Linked DNA regions of Homo sapiens. The protein of the gene in region 1 purifies or fractionates together with the protein of each later gene. This does not show direct contact. Each region holds a gene or a part of one and is shown on either strand. Other genes may lie near its edges.

The links.
Region 2: the proteins of PECR (region 1) and ACTA2 purify together in Homo sapiens (affinity purification with mass spectrometry, with the first as the bait; one large-scale study listed by BioGRID). This does not show direct contact.
Region 3: the proteins of PECR (region 1) and PEX5 purify together in Homo sapiens (affinity purification with mass spectrometry; 3 studies listed by BioGRID, with this or other methods). This does not show direct contact.
Region 4: the proteins of PECR (region 1) and HNRNPF purify together in Homo sapiens (affinity purification with mass spectrometry; 2 studies listed by BioGRID and IntAct, with this or other methods). This does not show direct contact.

Annotation. Positions count from the first base shown.
Region 1 is NC_000002.12:216,070,673-216,075,849, reverse strand, and holds part of PECR (peroxisomal trans-2-enoyl-CoA reductase), read left to right. Parts: intron 1-5,177. UniProt on the Homo sapiens protein: Participates in chain elongation of fatty acids. Catalyzes the reduction of trans-2-enoyl-CoAs of varying chain lengths from 6:1 to 16:1, having maximum activity with 10:1 CoA. Has no 2,4-dienoyl-CoA reductase activity.
Region 2 is NC_000010.11:88,938,642-88,943,818, reverse strand, and holds part of ACTA2 (actin, aortic smooth muscle), read left to right. Parts: coding exon 1-22; intron 23-1,949; coding exon 1,950-2,034; intron 2,035-2,428; coding exon 2,429-2,590; intron 2,591-3,844; exon of another isoform or gene 3,845-4,120; coding exon 4,121-4,312; exon of another isoform or gene 4,313-4,424; intron 4,425-5,177. UniProt on the Homo sapiens protein: Actins are highly conserved proteins that are involved in various types of cell motility and are ubiquitously expressed in all eukaryotic cells.
Region 3 is NC_000012.12:7,198,641-7,203,817, forward strand, and holds part of PEX5 (peroxisomal biogenesis factor 5), read left to right. Parts: intron 1-370; coding exon 371-473; intron 474-3,110; coding exon 3,111-3,201; intron 3,202-3,600; coding exon 3,601-3,711; intron 3,712-3,971; coding exon 3,972-4,064; intron 4,065-4,791; coding exon 4,792-4,911; intron 4,912-5,177.
Region 4 is NC_000010.11:43,402,055-43,407,231, reverse strand, and holds part of HNRNPF (heterogeneous nuclear ribonucleoprotein F), read left to right. Parts: intron 1-5,177.

The DNA.
Region 1 (5,177 bases):
ACCCAAGACAACATTTTTTCTTGCTCTAGTCTAGTCTAACTAGCCTGTTACCAACACCAGGGACCAAGAAGGTGCTGAATAAATGTAGTATTCTGAGTTGAAGATGGAAAGGGATCAGTATCAGCCTAAGCAGGAACGCAGCATACTGGGGCTACAAGCCTCTGATGTTGAAAGAACTCCTTATCCACAAGCTACTTCTATACCTATTCTAAGCAGGTCAGTTGAGCTTTCTGCATCTCTCTAGCTACATATAAACAAAAATAAAGTCTATTGAAATGATTTAGCATGAAAGGCAAGGATTATATATAATATTTTTCTAGTTTATTATAAGGTAGCATAAGAGGTTTGCAATAAATTAAAACAGTATAGAAGTGTATAAAAGAAAAAAATGAGCTTTACCCATTCTGCCCTTTTTCTAAATTCCCTTCCTGGTGATTTTCTACAAATTTAATGTGCACATGTATACACACGTATATATATTTTGTTTTCTACAAAATTGGGATCACAGTATTCTTACTGCTCTGTAATGGTTTTTTTTCCTACTTAAATATCTTGTTTTTTCTTTGTTTTGTTTTGTTTTTTAGAGACAGGATCTTGCTCTGTCACCCAGGCTAGAGTACAGTAGTGTCATCATAGCTCACTGCAGCCTCGAACTCCTGTCTGAAATGATTCTCCTGCCTCAACCTCCCAAGTATCTAAACTATAGGCATGTGCCACAATGTTTGGCAATAAAAAAATTTTTTTAGAGACAAGGTCTCATCCAGGATGGTCTTGAACTCACCACAAGCGACTCTCCAACCTTAGCCTCCCAAATTGCTGGGATTACAAGCATGAGTCACCATGCCTGGCCCATATCTTGTGTTTTTCAATGGTAGTATTGTAGTCATATCTCATTCATTTTAAAGCTGCATAGTATTCCATTGTGTGGGTCTGTAATAACTTATTTAACCATTTCCTGAATGGCCATTTAGGTTTTTATTTTACCCAGCATTGCATTGTTTTTCCCTGTAATATGTTTGCACCCTAGTTCAAGTTTGTCTATAGTGGAAAGTTCTAGCAGTGAAAGTAAATGGACTTGTAAAGTTGTATTTCAGTGCATCTTTACTTGTAGTAGACAACTGTCCTGAAGTCTTGAGGTTTCAGATAGTAACTAGTTATAATTTAGTAAACTTCTATTTAGATAATCCATGTGAATCATCCTATTTATATTCTCAACATATTTTTTACTCGAGGTCTTGGACAAAGTTAGGCATTAATCACCTTGGTGTTCTTGTTTTCTCTCTCTCTCTCTTCCTTCCTTCCTTCCTTTCTTCCTTCCTTCCTTCCTTCCTTCCTTCCTTCCTTCCTTCCTTCCTTTTTTTCTTTCTTTCTCTCTCTCTTTCTTTCTTTTCTTTCTTTTCTTTCTTTTTCTTTCTTTCTTGACACAGTCTCACTCTGTCACCCAGGCACAATCTTGCCTCACTGCAACCTCTGCCCCCAGGTTCAAGCAATTCTCGTGGCTTAGTCTCCTGAGTAGCTGGGATTACAGGCGTGTGCCTCCATGCTCAGCTAATTTTTTTGTATTTTTAGTAGAGGTGGGGTTTCACCATGATGCCCAGGCTGGTCTTGAAGTCCTGAATACAAGCGATCCACCGGCCTTGGCCTCCCAAAGTGTTGGGATTACAGGCATGAGCCACTGCACCCAGCCTAGGTAAAGTTTTTCATCCCTGCCCTATAGAGCCTATGCCCTACTCTGGGAACTAGAGCAAAAAATGTGTATGTTGAAGGCAGAAATATCAAAGAAAGAAGTGGGTGGAGGAAGTGGTGGCTTGTCCTGGGGTGCTTATTTCTCTCCTTTCCATCTCACTGATAAGCTCAGCTATTTCTCCTAAGTGACAGAAACCTAACTGAGTGTTGGATTAGTCTAGAAGTATATACAGTCATGTGTCACTTAACACAGGGAAATCTTCTGAGAAATACATCCTTAAGTGATTTCATCATAGTGTGAACATCATAGAGTGGTAGGCAAACCTAGATGGTATAGCCTACTATATACATGGTTTATATGGTCAATAGCCTATTGCTTCTAGGCTCCAAACCTGTACGGGAGGTTACTATGCTGAAGGCTGCAGGAAATAGTAACACAAAGGTAAATATCTGTGGTCTAAACATATCTAAACATACAAAAGATATAATAAAAATATGGTATTTTTATTATAAAATTATATAAAAACATACAAAAGATATAATAAAAATAAAAGATATAGTAAAAATATGGTATAAAATATAAAAAATGGTACACCTGTATAGAGCACTGTATAGGACACAGGAGCTTACGGGACTGGAAGTTGCTCTGGGTGAGTTAGTGAGGGAGTGATAAGTGAATGTGAAGGCCTAAGACATTATTGTTTACTATTGTAGAATTTATAAACACTGTACACACAGGCTAAACTAAATTTATAAAAAAATAAAGTAATTGCAGCTATGACATTACAGTGGCTACAGCACCACTGGATGATAAGAATGTTTAACTTCCACTTTAATCTTATGAGGCCACTGCCATACATGTGGTCTATCATTGACCAAAACATTGTTATGGGGTGTGTGACTGTGTTTCAGTTATTTTTCCTGCTGGAAGAAGAGGGCCCTCCTGGAAACAAAAGGAGAAAGGAGTAAGCTTCTCCTAACAGTATAACGTATGTTTTTGTTGCACATTATATATTTTGATAAATTAAATTCCATTTTAAAGTTAGGCAAGGCTTACAAGGAACTTATGGTGAATCTTTCCAATTTTTGCTTTATAAAACCCTCAGATTGCACACGAGAATTTCCAAAAGTTGTTACCATTTTTAGTTTACTAAATTATAACCTAAACTTTAAACATAGTTTTTAAAATTGTCTTATTTTGTACAAGCTCTATGGAAAACAGTATGGAGATTTCTCAAAGAATTAAAAATAGAATTGCCATTCAATTCAGCAAACCCACTACTGGGTGTTTACAAAGGAAAATAAATCACTATATGAAGAAGACACCTGCTCTAGTATGTTTATCACAGCACTATTCATAGTAGCAAGTTAAGAATCAACCTAAGTGTCCATCAGTGGATGATTGGATAAAGAAAATATGTTATATATACCATGGAATACTACTCAGCCATGAAAAAGAATGAAATCTTGTCTTTTGCAGGAACATGGATAGAACTGGAGGCCTTTATCCTAACTAAAATAATTCAGAAACAAGGTCAAATGGTGCATGTTCTCACTTATAAGTGGGAGCTAAAGAGTGGGTACACATGGACATACAGAGTAGAATAACAGACATTGGAGACTCTAAAAGGTGGGAGGGTAGAAGCAGGGGAGTGAGGGTTGAAAAATTACCTGTTGGGTACAGTGGCCACTATTCAGGTGATGGATACACTAAAAGCCCCATGTAACAAAACTACACTTGTCCCCCCTACATCTATAAAGATAAGAAATAAAATAAAGTGCCTTATTTTCATATGCAGTAGCTAGCTTATCTTATACAACTAAAATAGTTCAGGCCAAATGGAGAGCCTTTGTACTCTGTGCCTTTGTGAACTTTATTTATTCCACCTGTATATGCTGGACTGTGTGTTAGCCTAACAAATAGAGCAATTACAGGGTCCCTACCTCCCAGGGGATGACAGTGAGTGGAGCAGACTGTTAAATTAACAGGTAATTATGATACAGTGAAATGCTGTATTAGGGTGAAAACAGCCTATAACTGTATCACCTCACATAGAATTTAACACTGAAAAACCACTGCAATCCAGCCTGGGCAACACAGTGAGACCTCATCTTTAAAATATATATGTAAAAGAACCACTTAACAGTTCATAGGTAGTCTTTGCTTTTGCATGGCATTGTGGCATTGTAACAATGATCATGCAAGCTGAAACCATTCAAAGCAAAAATAGTCAATGGGAAAAAGTACAATTATTTCATGACCTTCAAAAATTTTTGTCAAAGTGGCACCCAAACGGGACTTTCAGGGACAAACAGAGACCTGAAGGGACCTAAAGAGGCCTGCAGGGACAAATAGAGATAAGTAGGGATAAATAGAAATAGAGGTAGAGTTAAATAGAGACAAATAGAGAGTTTTGGGCAAAAGTCATCTTAACTTGCAGGGCGTTACTGTAGCCCCAGGAGTTGTTGATTTTGATTGTGAAGAGGAAATTCCAGTAGTGGTAATGTCACAAGAACTTTGGGTTTTTGAACCAGGAGAATATATTGCACAACTATTGCTTGTTCCCTGTAAGTTGCACCCTTCTCCACGAAGGGAGAAGCGAGGGAATCAAGGATTTGAAAGTACAACTAGGAGAGAGATTTATCTATCACAACCCATAACATTTAATGGACTCACCTGTACAGTACAAATTGAAGGCTTAATGATTTTTTTTCTTTGCTATACTGTTGCACGAGAAGGATGAGCTTCAATTTGCTTTCCATGTGCCTTCTGTTAATCAGAGAGAGCCTGCCTCTCCTTATCAATGAGAAGTTTACCCCGTGGTAATTAACCAAAGAGGCAGAAGCTGAGTTACAGCTTGTGGAGCAGATGCTTTGGCAACGGCATGCCTCCTGGCCACAGCCACAAAAGCCTTTGCTTCTGTTTTGGTAGATTTACTGACGTGGGGATAAGGGTACGCTTGCGTTTTTGCAGGAGATGAACAAACTGTGTGGGTGCCCTCAAGGTGTGTGCGACCACAGAACGGGAGACTAGAGCGACCCATGGATCCCAACCATGGGCCCGGTTCCCCCAGTATGAGCTGAATGCGAAGACGGAATGAACCACCAAGGCTGCACATTTTGCAATTACCTGTCTCAATTAATTCAAAAACAAAAAGGGAGAGATGTTGCAGGCTGAAAGAGTGAGGGTCGTGATCAACTCAGTATACCGCTGGAGGGTATATGAGCAAACAGCAAACTGTTCTCATAAATGCAGAATGTTGGCAAATGACAAACTGCGTCTGCCACCCTTGAAGGAATGCTGAGGGCAGTCACGACCCAGGCGCAAGTGTTTCTTGTGATGAGGCACATCTGAAGCCTGTTAGCAATAATGTGAACCTGTGATCAGTTAAGCAGCTGACCAAATGTTACCTGCTCCTCCCTGCTCTTTCTACCCAATAAATACAAAAGGCCGTAGGAGCTCAAGGTTGCTGCCTTTACTCAGTAGAAGC
Region 2 (5,177 bases), on another chromosome or scaffold:
CAACCGGGAGAAAATGACTCAAGTAAGTATGCTACCCCAGCACACAACACTGTGGGGTCTGGGGAAACTTCTGTTAGAAGGAGGCTATGCAGCACAGCAGAGAGAAGGCCGGAGCTAGGAGTCCACCAACAGACTAACAGCCTTCAGTGAACTCAGGGATCCCAAAGGACAGGAACAGCTTGAAAGTACTTGCATCCTTCCTGCAGGGACCAGCCCTTTGCCTCCAAAAGCAATAGGAAATTTAAAAGATTTCACTGAGAAGGGGCCACGTTTAAGTTATAATGTCTAAGGAGAAGTCACTTCAAAATGCAGCATCACATACAATAGGAATTTGGGTTCCAGAGTCAGACATATCTAGGTTTGAAAACTGGATCTGCCACTTATCAGTTATGTGACCTTAAAGAACTCCGTTAATTTCTCAGAGCCTCAGTTTCCTTGTCTATAAGTTGGGAGTAATATTAATACTATCATTTTTCCAAGGATTGATGTGAACATTAATGAGGTGAAATGACAGATGTGTATCATGGTTCCTAATAAACATCCAAAATATAGTACTTACTATTGTCATTATTATTACTTGTTTGAAGCTAAAGACCTCACAATAGAATCCCATCCAGCCCACCAGACAGAGCTCTGAGTTTTCTAGTTTGGAAGAGCTATTAAATAACAACGTCTAGTGTCAATTCTATACTTGTTATGGTCAAGTACTGGGCTCAGCATTTTACATTCATTGTCTCTTTAAGTTCTAGCAATGTGAAGCAGGAACTATGATTATATTGACTACATAAATGAAGAAATTGAGGCTCAGATACATTAAGTAATTCTCCCAGGGTCACACAGCTAGAACTGGCAAAGCCTGGGATTGATCCACGATCTTCCAGCATTGAAGAATCATAAATGTAAATAACTGCAAGGCCTTTTCCTCAGAAGAGCTCCTGGTGCTTGCACCAACCCACTAGCACTTGTTCTCTACAGGGGAACATCTGTGGGCCTGGGAATCACTGCACGTCGCAAGAGATGTTGCTTCTGATGAATTATTGTTCCTGTCAGTGGTGTGAAGGCAAAAAAAAAAAAATGGTTGGAAATTATGGCTTGCTAGCAAATGATGTCAGACATTCTGGTTAATAGAGTAGGAAGGGTCTTACAGATGGAGAAATGAAGACCCACGGACATCTCCTGATGCACAAACTTCTCACAAGTGACCTGGAGGGGCTTGGTTCTAATCTTGTCCCTGGACTGCACCAACTGGGGCACTGACATTCTATGTGGTCCTCTATTACCATTGGGCTGGTCCTGTCTTCCAGGAACCAGGGCCTCTCCCACTGCAACCAGAATGGCCTCAGATTCTAGGGTTAGCATTGACCCAGTAACTACATAAAAAAGTGGAATAGATTAAATAGAACCTCAGACAAATCACAGAAATGGGGCTAAACCTAGCCAGCCTGAGCTTCAGATTTAAAAGTTCTCTTTCTTTATACCAGGGAAATCAAAACCTGGATGTTGTCTTCTCTTTTTCTTCTGGCTTTGACATAGTTAACAAGCCCTAGGATGTCTGCACTGGAAAAATGGGAGATCTCATTTAGTCCAAACTCCTCCTCTGTTAAGAGACCTGGAATAAAGCCACTATTAATCAACTATTAGTTTGGTGACTATTAGTCAAAGCCAGGACCAGAGCCAGAAGCTGGACTTTCCTTTCCCCTGGCCAAACCTTGTGTGCACACTGTTTCTTCCCCTCCCCACCCTGTCAGGCCATTGATGTGATGGCTCCCCATTCACACCTTCATTTCTCCTCTTTAACGTGACCAGGGCTGTTCTGAACCTCCTTACTTTGGCCTCCTCTGCCCAGAACAGGTCAGGCCCCTCTGCATCCATCAACCAGGTGTGCTCTCCTGACCATTCTTTGTCAGATGGGCACCTTCACTAACTCAGCTCTTTGGATTGCTTTGCAGATTATGTTTGAGACTTTCAATGTCCCAGCCATGTATGTGGCTATCCAGGCGGTGCTGTCTCTCTATGCCTCTGGACGCACAACTGGTAGGTGGCTGGGCGGGACAGCAAGCTGGTTGGAGCGCACTGCCAGAGATGGGATTGAATGGTCGTTAACACGTGGGGGTGACGGACTGGAGTTGAGTTAGAATGGACACGGCTGAACCCAGCCCTAAAAGATCTTCTTCTAGTGTTCAAAATAAGCCCTTGATCTCATATTTCTAGCAGAACTTTTTTCTACTGTTTTCCTCTTCCTGTTCTTTACTTTTTTTCATCTTCCCCGAGCCCTGTCCCACCTCACCTCTCCTATCACATGCCCTGTTTTCTCTTTTTAAATAAGAGGCTCGGAAATTCCCTCTCCCCCAAGGCTTCCCTCTACTTGTCCAGCAAGTAACCACATGCCAGCTGCCATGGTGACTTATCACGCCCAATTGTCTCCCAGGCATCGTGCTGGACTCTGGAGATGGTGTCACCCACAATGTCCCCATCTATGAGGGCTATGCCTTGCCCCATGCCATCATGCGTCTGGATCTGGCTGGCCGAGATCTCACTGACTACCTCATGAAGATCCTGACTGAGCGTGGCTATTCCTTCGTTACTACTGGTGAGGCCTGTGGGAGATAAGGGGGAGAGGGGAGCAGTGTGTTGCTCAGTAACTTCCAGGACCATCCTCACTATCCAAGGAGATGATGGGATGAAGTTTTGCAAATGGCAAGGCCTGGCTCTAATGCACAGAGCAAAGCACATCTTTCTTTGCTGTGTGAAGTTGCAAAATGATTACACTATTTCCTTGAGGAGAACAGTTATAGACACCCAGTGTTATGCATTAGTCAGTGTTGTATAATTGATCTTTTTTTAATCCCCTCCATTAGCAAATAGAAGAAGATTGTGCAGAGACTGAAGATGGCATGGTGTGGTGATTGGCAGGAGACATTGTGATAGGACTCGAGTCCCAACTCTGCTACTCAGTAGCTCTGTGAGCTTGGACAAGTTAACCAACCATAGTCTCTTTATTTGTAAAATGGGGATAATAATAGACCCTATATCACATGATTGTTATCAGTATTAAATGGAAGAACGCATGTGGAATACTTGACATAGAGTAAGCATTCAATAATTGTTAGCTATTAACAGTGATACTTATTAATAGCTAACACAGTGACATATGTGTATTCAGATTCTAAGCCGGTGCACCCAGTCCTCCCTTCACAAGAGGAAAGTGTCAGCATTGCCAGAAACATTGTATGTCCTCAGTGCTGGTGGCTCCAGCTACCTGTCCTCCCCTTAGCAATTTGGTATTGTCCAAACATTTAGGTTTCTGAACATGCCTGAGGCTTATTTTATGCTCCAAATTTGAGGCTTGAGACTTGAACCCTGCCAATGTTAAAGTCTCCACTTGCAATATGAAGTTGAATAATTGCATTCCTCCTCTGCTCCCTACAAAGAATCCCAAGATGCCTCTAAAAGGTTCCTAGAGCCTCAGATATAATTAATAGCCTAGAACTTCAGAGAGCAGAAGTCTGAAAGGTCTCTCCCTGCCCACTTCTTCCGTATCTCGTTCAGTATGCACCGCTGAAACCTTCTGGACTAGGCCTGGTCCTGAGACAGCACCACCTCTTTCCTGGAGGGTGAGAAATGTGCCAAAGGTTTAACCTGCTATCCACTGGCCCAGGCAACAGGATCTCAGACTTTTTGAAAATTGTGAGGCCCCTGAGGAGCTGATTCAGCATAAGATATCCTGGTTAACTGAAAATACAATATAACAAACTTTCTGTCATAAAATAATTATAACACAGAGTAGTTATCCTGCCCACCCACCCCAAAAAATGTTATGGTACAAAAGGATCCGCTACTGTGTGCCTTTCTCTAGCTAGCTCATTTTATTCTTGTTATGCATTTCCCAGACAATGCATGCTGAGGGCCTACTATGCATGAGACACTGTCCTAGGAACAGAGGTGGTTCCCTGGTGGCCCTACTACGTCATTATCATTGTGGATTTTGGATTGCAGAATATTGAACTGACACATTTTTTGATGGCACATGTCTTGAGGGAGAGACTGCAGTAGGGCAGGTGAATCTTTGCCACCTGTGCAGACCCTAATGTTTGCCACAATGTTTGTATCTGGTTGACAGCTGAGCGTGAGATTGTCCGGGACATCAAGGAGAAACTGTGTTATGTAGCTCTGGACTTTGAAAATGAGATGGCCACTGCCGCATCCTCATCCTCCCTTGAGAAGAGTTACGAGTTGCCTGATGGGCAAGTGATCACCATCGGAAATGAACGTTTCCGCTGCCCAGAGACCCTGTTCCAGCCATCCTTCATCGGTAGGCAACAAACGCCCTTTTCCTGGGAAGGGGAGTCATTGTCTTCTTCCATATCAAGCCAGCCTCCAGAACATGGAGACAAGTGACGGTTGCCCCAAGACCAAAAGCATTTCTAAACCAGAAAAAGGGAAAGTGCCACATTTTCAAGGCGAGAAGACATAATGAGGCCAGGAAAAAGGTTTTCTTCCTAAGAAAACACTATCTATGTTGCAGTTAAGCCCAAAGCATTCATGGTGTATGATGAAAGAATTAAATAATGCCTGTGCTTTGGAGACAGCGGAAAGGGTAGCAAGGGTGTGCTGAAGGCTGAGAATTTGGGAATGCTGGGGGAGAGAAAAATAGAAGAGCACTCAAAGTGAGTCTGTTCCTACATTCACATTGTCTTGGAGAGACAGGTTTGCATAGTTGTTTACAGAGGCAGGCTCTGAGAGGGGTGAGCCTGGGTTTCAGTCTTAGTTCTCTTGATCTTGGGAAAGTCACTTAACCTCCCAACTAGTCTCCTCATGTATAAAGCGGAGACTGTAATATTACTTATGTCCTAGGATGGCTGTGAGAATTACAGGAGATAGATAAAGAGCACTTAGCCCACTGCCTGGCAAAAGCAAGCATTCAATAATTATCAGATATCACTAGTAATTAATAATCAGGTAGTGCTATTGTTAACGTTATCATTACATCACAGCACTGCAGAAGATGAAAGGGCACCTAGAGGTTTTTTGAAAACACCTGCGTCAGAAATTAACAAAAGTCCAGACCCCCACCCCCACCCAAAAAAAATGTTAGCAAGATTGGAAAAATGAGCCTTTTCCAACAGGATAAAAAATAGAGTAAGTTTCCCTGATAATCCAGCCCCATTAGCTTTGGG
Region 3 (5,177 bases), on another chromosome or scaffold:
CCTTACTGGCTCCCTGCTGTACTTCTGAGGAAAGTGAAAGCCCTTCCGCTTCCTATTTCTTATTGAAATATCTTGCACTTCAAGAAAAAGAGTTTGGTTCTTAATCCTTTCCTGAGATTCCTTATTTGATCTCCCGTTCCCAACTCTCAGTAAATTTCTGCCCCAGGCTCCTTGAGAATGGGTTGGATATTGAGGATGTTGAAAATTTAGTACTATATTCTTTTGACCAGGGGTTTCTGAGGGAGTCAGCAGAGTTTTGTCTGCTTTGGTGTGGCTAAGAGGGTCAGTTGAATATGGGCATCTCTTTCCCTTTCCTTGATCCCACACTGAATGAACCTGTGTGATTTCCCCACTTCTCTGCTCCTTGCAGACCCCTTGTCTGTGTCCCCTGCCCGCTGGGCTGAGGAATATTTGGAGCAATCAGAGGAGAAGCTGTGGCTGGGAGAACCTGAGGGAACAGCCACCGATCGCTGGTGAGTTCAGATACCTCTTTCCGAATCCCGTGAAAGGAGTATGGACAGTTTTCCCAGCCTCCTCCATCCACGTTCTCGAACCAACTTACTTTATTCTTTTTTTTTTTTTTTTTTATCATTCTTGGGTGTTTCTTGCAGAGGGGGATTTGGCAGGGTCATAGGACAATAGTGGAGGGAAGGTCAGCACATAAGCAAGTGAACAAAGGTCTCTGGTTTTCCTAGGCAGAGGACCCTGCGGCCTTCCGCAGTGTTTGTGTCCCTGGGTACTTGAGATTAGGGAGTGGTGATGACTCTTAAAGAGCATGCTGCCTTCAAGCATCTGTTTAACAAAGCACATCTTGCACCGCCCTTAATCCATTTAACCCTGAGTGAACACAGCACATGTTTCAGAGAGCACAGGGTTGGGGGTAAGGTCATAGATCAACAGGATCCCAAGGCAGAAGAATTTTTCTTAGTACAGAACAAAATGAAAAGTCTCCCATGTCTACTTCTTTCTACACAGACACAGCAACCATCGGATTTCTCAATCTTTTCCCCACCTTTCCCCCTTTTCTATTCCACAAAACCGCCATTGTCATCATGGCCCGTTCTCAATGAGCTATTGGGTACACCTCCCAGACGGGGTGGTGGCCAGGCAGAGGGGCTCCTCACTTCCCAGTAGGGGCGGCCGGGCAGAGGCGCCCCTCACCTTCTGGACGGGGCGGCTGGCCGGGCGGGGGGCTGACCCCCACCTCCCTCCCGGACGGGGCGGCTGGCCGGGCAGGGGGCTGACCCCCACCTCCCTCCCGGACGGGGCGGCTGGCCGGGCGGGGGGCTGACCCCCACCTCCCTCCTGGACGGGGCGGCTGGCCGGGCGGGGGGCTGACCCCCCGCCTCCCTCCCGGACGGGGCGGCTGGCCAGGCGGGGGGCTGACCCGCACCTCCCTCCCGGACGGGGCGGCTGGCCGGGCGGGGGGCTGACCCCCACCTCCCTCCCGGACGGGGTGGCTGCCGGGCGGAGACGCTCCTCACTTCCCAGACGGGGCGGCTGCCGGGCAGAGGGTCTCCTCACTTCTCAGACGGGGCGGCCGGGCAGAGACGCTCCTCACCTCCCAGACGGGGTCGCGGCCAGGCAGAGGCGCTCCTCACATCCCAGACGGGGCGGCGGGGCAGAGGCGCTCCTCACATCTCAGACGATGGGTGGTCGGGCAGAGACGCTCCTCACTTCCTCGATGGGATGGCGGCTGGGAAGAGGCGCTCCTCACTTCCTAGATGGGATGGCGGCCGGGCAGAGACGCTCCTCACTTTCCAGACTGGGCAGCCAGGCAGAGGGGCTCCTCACATCCCAGACGATGGGCGGCCAGGCAGAGACGCTCCTCACTTCCCAGATGGGGTGGCGGCCAGGCAGAGGCTGCAATCTCGGCACTTTGGGAGGCCAAGGCAGGCGGCTGGGAGGTGGAGGTTGTAGCGAGCCGAGATCACGCCACTGCACTCCAGCCTGGGCACCATTGAGCACTGAGTGAACGAGACTCCGTCTGCAATCCCGGCACCTCGGGAGGCCGAGGCTGGCGGATCACTCGCGGTTAGGAGCTGGAGACCAGCCCGGCCAACACAGCGAAACCCCGTCTCCACCAAAAAAATACGAAAACCAGTCAGGCATGGCGGCGCGTGCCTGCAATTGCAGGCACTCGGCAGGCTGAAGCAGGAGAATCAGGCAGGGAGGTTGCAGGGAGCCGAGATGGCAGCAGTACAGTCCAGCTTCGGCTCGGCATCAGAGGGAGACCGTGGAAAGAGAGGGGGAGAGAGACCGTAGGGAGAGGGAGAGGGAGAGGGAGAGGGCTTACTTTATTCTTTAAGATTTCCCCTTGGGTTATTACTCCTGTGAATTTATGGTTGAAATGTAGTCAAGGACACAGTGGTTGTGTGCCTGTACTCAGGAAGCTGAGGTGGGAGGATTGCTTGGGCCCAGGAGGTCAAGTCTAGCCCGAGGAACACAGTAAGACCTTGTCTTTAAAAAACCAAAAGCGCATGCATGTGTGCGTGCACACACACACACGCACACACATATATACACACATACACATATGTACACACGCATACATACACATACATGTGCACATACATGTATATACACACGTATACATATGTAAACATGTAGATACATGCGTACACATGTATACACACACATAGACATACATGTATACACACATACACATACACATGTATATACATACACACATACACGTATATATACATATCAGCTATATTTGGGAGGAAGGGAGTTTTCAGACTTTTAAAATATATGTATATAGGTAAATATATATATATTTTTCAAGAATCCTAACTATCCTATATGACGTTCATAACTTCATCTTAAAGTTCATAATTTTACCTTGTTCCCTTCTTAATTTTGAGCCTGCTACTATCCCATCTGTATGCAAAGATATGTTTGGGAAAGGGAGAGCTAGAAGGATGTAGCTAGTACTTTCACACTCCTGCCCAAATGTCCTTCTATAATGCAAATTGGAGTTTGTAGGTTCTCAACAGGAGAATGGAGTTCCCTCACAGGAACTGTCATTGTCATGGGCTAGGAGTGGGGAGTAGCATGGGGAGGGTGATGGCAGACTAATGTGTAAAATTAGTTCTTACCCGTTCCAGGTATGATGAATATCATCCTGAGGAGGATCTGCAGCACACGGCCAGTGACTTTGTGGCCAAAGTGGATGACCCCAAATTGGCTAATTCTGAGGTGAGCCACATCCCTCTGCTGCTTTGCCCAGCAGAGCTGGTTTTGGAAGGCAAGAATCTTGCTTTTCTTACCCCAGTTTAGTTTAAAGAGAAGGAGAAGAGATCTTAGGTCTCTTCGTTCCTGTCTATAGAACAGAGACTTAAGATCCTGCCTCTTCCTTCTAGTGTTCATTCCCTCATCTCCTTGCCTACTAACTCTTTTTTCTGATGCCTTTGCAAGTCTTTAGAGCCAGAAATCCCTTTCTTTTTGCTCTCTACCTCTTTTAGGGTCTTTAGCATATCTTGTCTGCAGCTAGAGATGGTCAGGGGAGGGGTGAGTACAGGGTCCTCTTGGGCATGGTTGAGAGTGCACACCTGGAAGTCCTTTCCCAAGTGGCCTGTGTGTGTCTCTGTGCCCCAGTTCCTGAAATTCGTGCGGCAGATTGGCGAAGGGCAGGTGTCCCTGGAGTCCGGTGCAGGGTCGGGCCGAGCTCAGGCAGAACAGTGGGCAGCAGAGTTTATACAGCAGCAGGTAGGACATTGTCACTTTCCAGTCCCACTTCAGAGCCAGCTGATGCCCCAGGCCATGGGTTCAGTGGTCAGTGGTCCCAGATGGGGAAGGATAAGACCAGCTTGTCTTGATAGCATCCAGGTCCCAAGTGGGTGGGAAAGAGATTCTGAGAATGATTTTCTCAGAAGTACCCAGGTTGGTGGTGGTTAGTGGGTATTTAGTGTGCGTCTGATGGATAGAAAGTTGGTGGTAGTGGTACTGACCATCCTTTTTTGTCGCAGGGTACATCAGATGCCTGGGTTGACCAGTTCACAAGACCAGTAAACACATCTGCCCTTGATATGGAGTTTGAACGAGCCAAGTCAGCTATAGAGGTGAGAGCAGATAGTGCAGGAGCAGACACCCCAAAAGAAAACACTCCTTGGAGTGAGTGGGTGTATGAACATCAAAGATGATGCAAATTGTATTTCATAGTGGACCTGGATCATCTGTGTCAGAGTTGCTTGGGGATGGGGTGGGTGCTGTTGAAAAATGCAGATTTCTGGGCCAGGCATGGTGGCTCATGCCTGTAATCTCAGCACTTTGGGAGCCCGAGGTGGGTGGATCACCTGAGGTTAGGAGTTCGAGACCAGTCTGAACAACATGGAGAAACCCCATGTCTCTACTAAAAATACAAAATTAGCGTGGTGTGTTGGCGCATGCCTGTAATCCCAGCTACTTGGGAGGCTGAGGCAGGAGAAATGTTTGAAACTGGGAGGTGGAGGTTGCAACGAGATGAGATCACGCCATTGCACTCTAGCCTGGGCAACGAGAGTGAAACTCTGTCTCAAACAAAAAACTAAACTAAACTATGCACTGCACTGCACTGCACTGCACTGCACTGCACTGCACTACATTACATTTCTGGCCATCACCCCAGACTACTAAATCAGTATCTGGGGATAGCATCTGGCCATTTGCATTTTAAAAAACTTATTCAGATGATTCTTAAACATATTGAAATTCAAGAACTGCTGCCTTAGAGAATCCCAGCAGAGCTGAGTGTGGGGTGGGGTGGTCATGATGGATCTCCTTTTTCTATCTGCTTTCCCTTCCTTACAGTCTGATGTCGATTTCTGGGACAAGTTGCAGGCAGAGTTGGAGGAGATGGCAAAACGGGATGCTGAGGCCCACCCCTGGCTTTCTGACTATGATGACCTTACGTCAGCTACCTATGATAAGGTGAGGTAAAAACTCTTAGTTTTTCAGGTTCCAGAACTTCCTTCTTTTTAACGTCTTTCCTTTAATCCTGAATTTGAAGGGTGCTTTTAAGTATTTTCTTGAGTCCCTTTCCACGAAAAGAAGTCTGAATAATTCCCTTGCCCTTCCTCTTCAGTGATTGAGTATAAACTTTATTCTTGGGATATAGATGTTAATGAGACTATCTTTGTCAATAACGACAGTCCAGTACATAACACCTGTGAAGGAGGTTTGCACATGCTTGCTGC
Region 4 (5,177 bases), on another chromosome or scaffold:
GCGGCTTCCCGGAACCGCGCGGGGCGGGCCCTGCGCCGGGGTCAGGGCCACAGCCTCAGGCGGCAGGGAGTTCTGAAAGCGTAGTTTTCAGTCGTTCCGTCCCAAAAGTCATCTTAATTCTTCCAAAAATACACGCATATAATTCTTTCTACTTAGTTATATTTTTAAAAGTTAAATACGTGGTTGTCTCTGAATTCCTAGTAAGATGAAAATTTCTTGGGTTCTCCAGGTAGGTGAAAGATACCTTAAGTGCTATTCCTGCAAAGTGACTCGTTGCTCTCACAGAATTTATAAACTATAAAATAAGACATTACTACTTTAATGAATATTAAGAGAGAGATTGCTTTATTCCTAAGCAAGAAGATCTTTTCCCTTGTAGGTATTACATTCCGGTGTGCATTCTGTAGATTAGAGTCATTATCGGCCGGGCGAGGTGGCTCACGCCTGTAATCCCAGCATTTAGGGAGGCCGAGGTGTGGGAGGATCGCTTGGGCCCCAGAGACCTACCCCGTCTCTATAAAAAAATATGTATTATTTTTTGAGACAGGGTCTCACTTTGTTGCCCAGGCTGGAGTGCAATGGTGTGATCTCGGCTCGCTGCCGAGATCCTCCTGTGCTCAACGGATCCTCCCACCTCAGCCGCCGAGTATCTGGGACCACGGGCACTCTCCAGCACGCCCGGCAAATTTTTGTATTTTTTGTAGAGATGGGGTCTCCTTATGTTGCCCAGATTGATTTTCAAACTTTTGTGCTCAAGCGATTCTCACGCCTCTGCCTCCCAAAGTGCTGGGATTACAGGCGTGAGCCATCGTGCCCGGCCACTTTTTTGTAAACTGCCAAGTTTTCTGTTAAGGGTAGCGTTATAAAGCTTTATTCAGGTAAAAAATGGAATTTATTTAAGGGAAAAGACTGAGTAAATAGAAAGTTACTTCTCCCACGTGGCCAGAACCTTGGAAAGCCTGGAGGCAAATGAGAGCCCGGTGGGGGTAGATGCCTGCAGGGGCTGCAGAAATGTGACAGGCCCTTTCCTTGGAGGTGACTTCTCTAATTCCCTCTCCCCCACTGAGCTCTGGTTCTCTGCTCTTCGGGAGAACCACATTAGTTGACTCTTACTAGGTCCTAGAAGTTTTACTCCATTTTCTAATTACATGCTCAGGACTACTCCAGAAGGGCTTGCTATTAGCCCCATGTTTCAGATGAGAAAATGGAGGTTGGGAGAAGTCATGTGTCCAGGGACACAATTGGGACTTGGGACCCAGTCCCAACTGGGTCCCAAGTTGGACCGGGACACCCCTCCCCTGCCAGGGCCCTTGCCCTGTCTTAGTTGCCCTGAGCTACGGTTCTTGTGGAGGGCAACAGGGTGGGCAGAGGGAGAACTGAGCTCAGCCAAGACCGCCCTGGCTTATTTTACAGCAAATCCCAGACCAATAAGGTCTTTATTAATAAATAAATCCGCAGTATTTCTAAGAACTTTTAAAACCTAACCATGATACTGCTGTCATGCCTAAAAATACATTCCAAAATATCAAGTATCCAGGGTTTAAGTGTTTCTGTATTAAATTTTTTTTTTTTTCCGAGACGGAATCTTGCTCTTGTCACCCAGGCTGGAGTGCAGTGGCACAATCTCAGCTCACTGCAAACTCCATCTCCCGGGTTAATGCCATTCTCCTGCCTCAGCCTCCCGAGTTGCTGGGACTACAGGCGGCCGCCACCATGCCCGGCTAATTTTTTGTATTTTTAGTAGAGGCGGGGTTTCATCATGTTAGCAGGGATGGTCTCGATCTCCTGACCTCGTGATCCGCCGGCCTCGGCCTCCCAAAGTGCTGGGATTACAGGCGTGAGCCACCGCGCCCGGCATGTATTAAATATTTTAAACAGCTGGTTGGTTTGAGTCAGGATCCAAAGTCACACCTTATATTTTGTAGATAACTTTTTAAATTCAGAGCAGCACTGTCCAATAGAAATATAATGTATGCTATAAATGTAATCTTATATTCTTTAGTGGTAAAAGGAAACATGATTCATTGTATTAATAATTTAACCTAATATATATCCACTACTATTTTGCATGTAATTTTAAAACACTTTTTCATTTCTCCATGATCTTGACTAAAATAATTAAAAACAAAATCCTGTGAACTTGTCAAAATCCAGTGTGAGTTTTACACTTACACATTTCAAGCGTGGTGAATGGATGCTGTGTAAGTGATCATCTAGAGGTTCCCCTTTCTTAAAAGGCTCCATCCCCCGTTATATTTGTCGGGCTGTCTTGCAGCATTCCTTCCCCACACTTCGCATTTTTCTGATTGTTTTTCCGTGGTGGTCTTTGAGTGTCTGTTCTTTATATTTCCTGTAAAGTGATAGTTACCTCTAGAGGTAGTTTTTGGTTTTGGTTTTATTTTTGTTTTTGAGACGGAGTTTTGGTTTTGTTGCCCAGGCTGGAGTGCAATGGTGTGATCTTGTCTCACTGCCTCCTGGGTTCAAGCAATTCTCTTGCCTCAGCCTCCTGAGTAACTGGGATTACAGGGGTATTTTTAGTAGAGACGGAGTATCAACTTGTTGGTCAGGCTGGTCTCAACCTCCTGACCTCAGGTGATCCACCCGCCTCAGCCTCCCAAAGTGCTGGGATTACTGGTGTGAGCCACCGCACCCAGTCTGGAGGTAGTTTTGATTCAGATGAGAGTTTTTGGAAAGAAAACTTACTTGAGGTGCTGTGCTCCAACCGGAGGCACATATTGGTTGGTATCTTCTCTTTTGTCATGTTACAGCAGCTATTAATGATCATTATGTAGATCCATTATTTTCTTAAATGGTTTTCAAATTAGTGATATTTTAATAATCGATTCCTTTTCATTTATTAGCAGGAATACTTTTTCATGTGATCGCTCTAAGATGTACTTTTGTTTTTGTTTTCCTTTTTTTTTTTTTTTATAGACGGATTCTCACTCTGTCACCCAGGCTGGAGTGCAGTGGCAGGATCCAGGCTCACTGCAGCCTCCGCCTCCTGGGTTCAGGCGATTCTCAGGCTCGTGAGCAGCTGGGATTACAGGTGTGCAGCACCACCACGCCCATCTAATAGTAGAGATGGTGGAGTGGCAGGGGGTGGGGGGTTTCACCATGTTGGCCAGGCTGGTCTCAAACTCCTGACCTCAAGTGATCCACCTGCCTTGGCCTCCCAAAGTGCTGGGATTACAGGCGTGAGTCACCCACCACGCCCAGCCCTCCACATTTTTTTTTTTCGAGAAAGGGTTTCACTTTGATGCCCACACTGGAGTGCCCTGGTGTGGACAGAGCTCACTGCAGCCTCAACCTCCTGGGCTCAGGCAATCCTGCCTCATCCCCCCAAGTAGCTGGGATTACAGGTGTGTGCCACATGCCCAGCTATTTTTTTTTGTATTTTTTGTAGAGAAGGGGTTTTGCCATGTCGCCCAGGGTGGTCTCCTGAGCTCAAGTGATCTGCCCACCTCGGCCTCCCAAAGTGCTGGGATTACAGGTGTGAGCCACTATATATGGCCTCAGTTCTTCCTTGACATAAATTCAGCTTAGCATTTCTCATAAAACATTAAAAAAGTACCTCTATACTTTGTCTCCATTGATACATCAGTATGAGAAATTGCAGTGATTGAGTTTGAAATGATCAACTACACTTGCATTCCTGAAATCCAACTTGGTCATAATATCGCTTTATATATTGCTGGATTAGGTTGACTGATACTTGGTTTGGACTTTTGCATCTGAGTTCTTGAGTGAAATTAGCCTGTGATACTTGATTAATTGTAAAACTCTTTTGGAAATGAAAAAATCAATTCCAAGTTCATTGTAGATGTAAGTGTAAAAATTTAGAGAAGAACATCAACGCTTTGTAAGTTCAGATAACTATATGGGCTGGGGCTAGGAAAAAGATCTCTTGAAAATGACACAGGCTGGGCGGGGTGGTTCACACCTTTAATCCCAGCAGGGCCAAGGCAGGCGGATTGCTTGAGGCCAGGAGTCCAAGACCAGCCTGGCCAATGTGGCGAAACCCCATCTCTACTAAAAATACAAAAATTTGCCAGGTGTGGTGGTGTGCATCTGTAATCCCAGGCTGAGGCAGGAGAATTGCTTGAACTCAGGAGGTGGAGGTTGCAGTGAACCGAGAGTGGAATGATGGTTTGAGCTCAGGAGTTCAAGATAAGCCTGGGCAAGATGGCAAGACCCTATCTTTTCAAAAACAGAATTTTTAATTAGCCAGGTATGATAGCGAACACTTGTAAAGACATAGAGGATGCAGTGAGTTGTGATTGCAGTACTGCATACCACCCTGAGCAAGAAAGCAAGACCCCGTTTAAAAAAAAAAAGCCATCATAATTAAGAAAAGGCATGACAGATTAAGACTCCTATTAGATTTATCCTAACGGTATGCCTCCTGTTAGACAAAATGCTTCACCTAATACAAATACAGATACTCTTACTTACTGTTATATCCCGATAAATCCATCATAAGTTATTTGATTAGAATAGTGCCATCTAATAGAATTATGATGTTTATGACAAATACATATCTTTTCTAATTTAAGTTGGTGTTAGATACCATATACGATCCTCTTAAAGTACATAGAATTCAGAAGTTAGTTTTCTTGTGATGTTTTTGTCTGGTTTGGTAACACGTTGTATTAGTATGCTAGGGCTGCCATGCAAAGTAATACAGACTAGTAACAAATTTTCTCACGGTTATGGAGGCTAGAAGTCTTAAGATGAGGGTGTTGATAGGGTTGGTTTCTTTTCAGGCAGGAGAAATAATGTGAATAGTAGGAATTCCAGAAGGAGAAAAAGACACAGATGGAGGCAGCAAGAGAAGCGATAAAGGATTAGAAGTGAATTTTCCTGGCTTAAGATCCCTGTAGTTCCCATTAGGATATTTTGAAAAGACACAGCACAGGCGTGTGTTGGTAAAACTCCTAAAGTATAGAGGAAACTGCTTTGGAAAAAGTATGTCCTCCAAATCTCTTATCTTCTCCCCCATTGTTTCTGTTTTGATGTTTATTCTACTTCGTTTTCCTTTCTTTGAATTCATTACTAACTTTTAAATTTAAAACTCAGTTTTAGTTCCAGAAAGTTTTTTTTTTTAAGTTTTGTAATGGAGTGGTATCTGAAGTTGCTCTTTTTTTCCTGTTAAAATCATTATGGTTTTTGTCTAG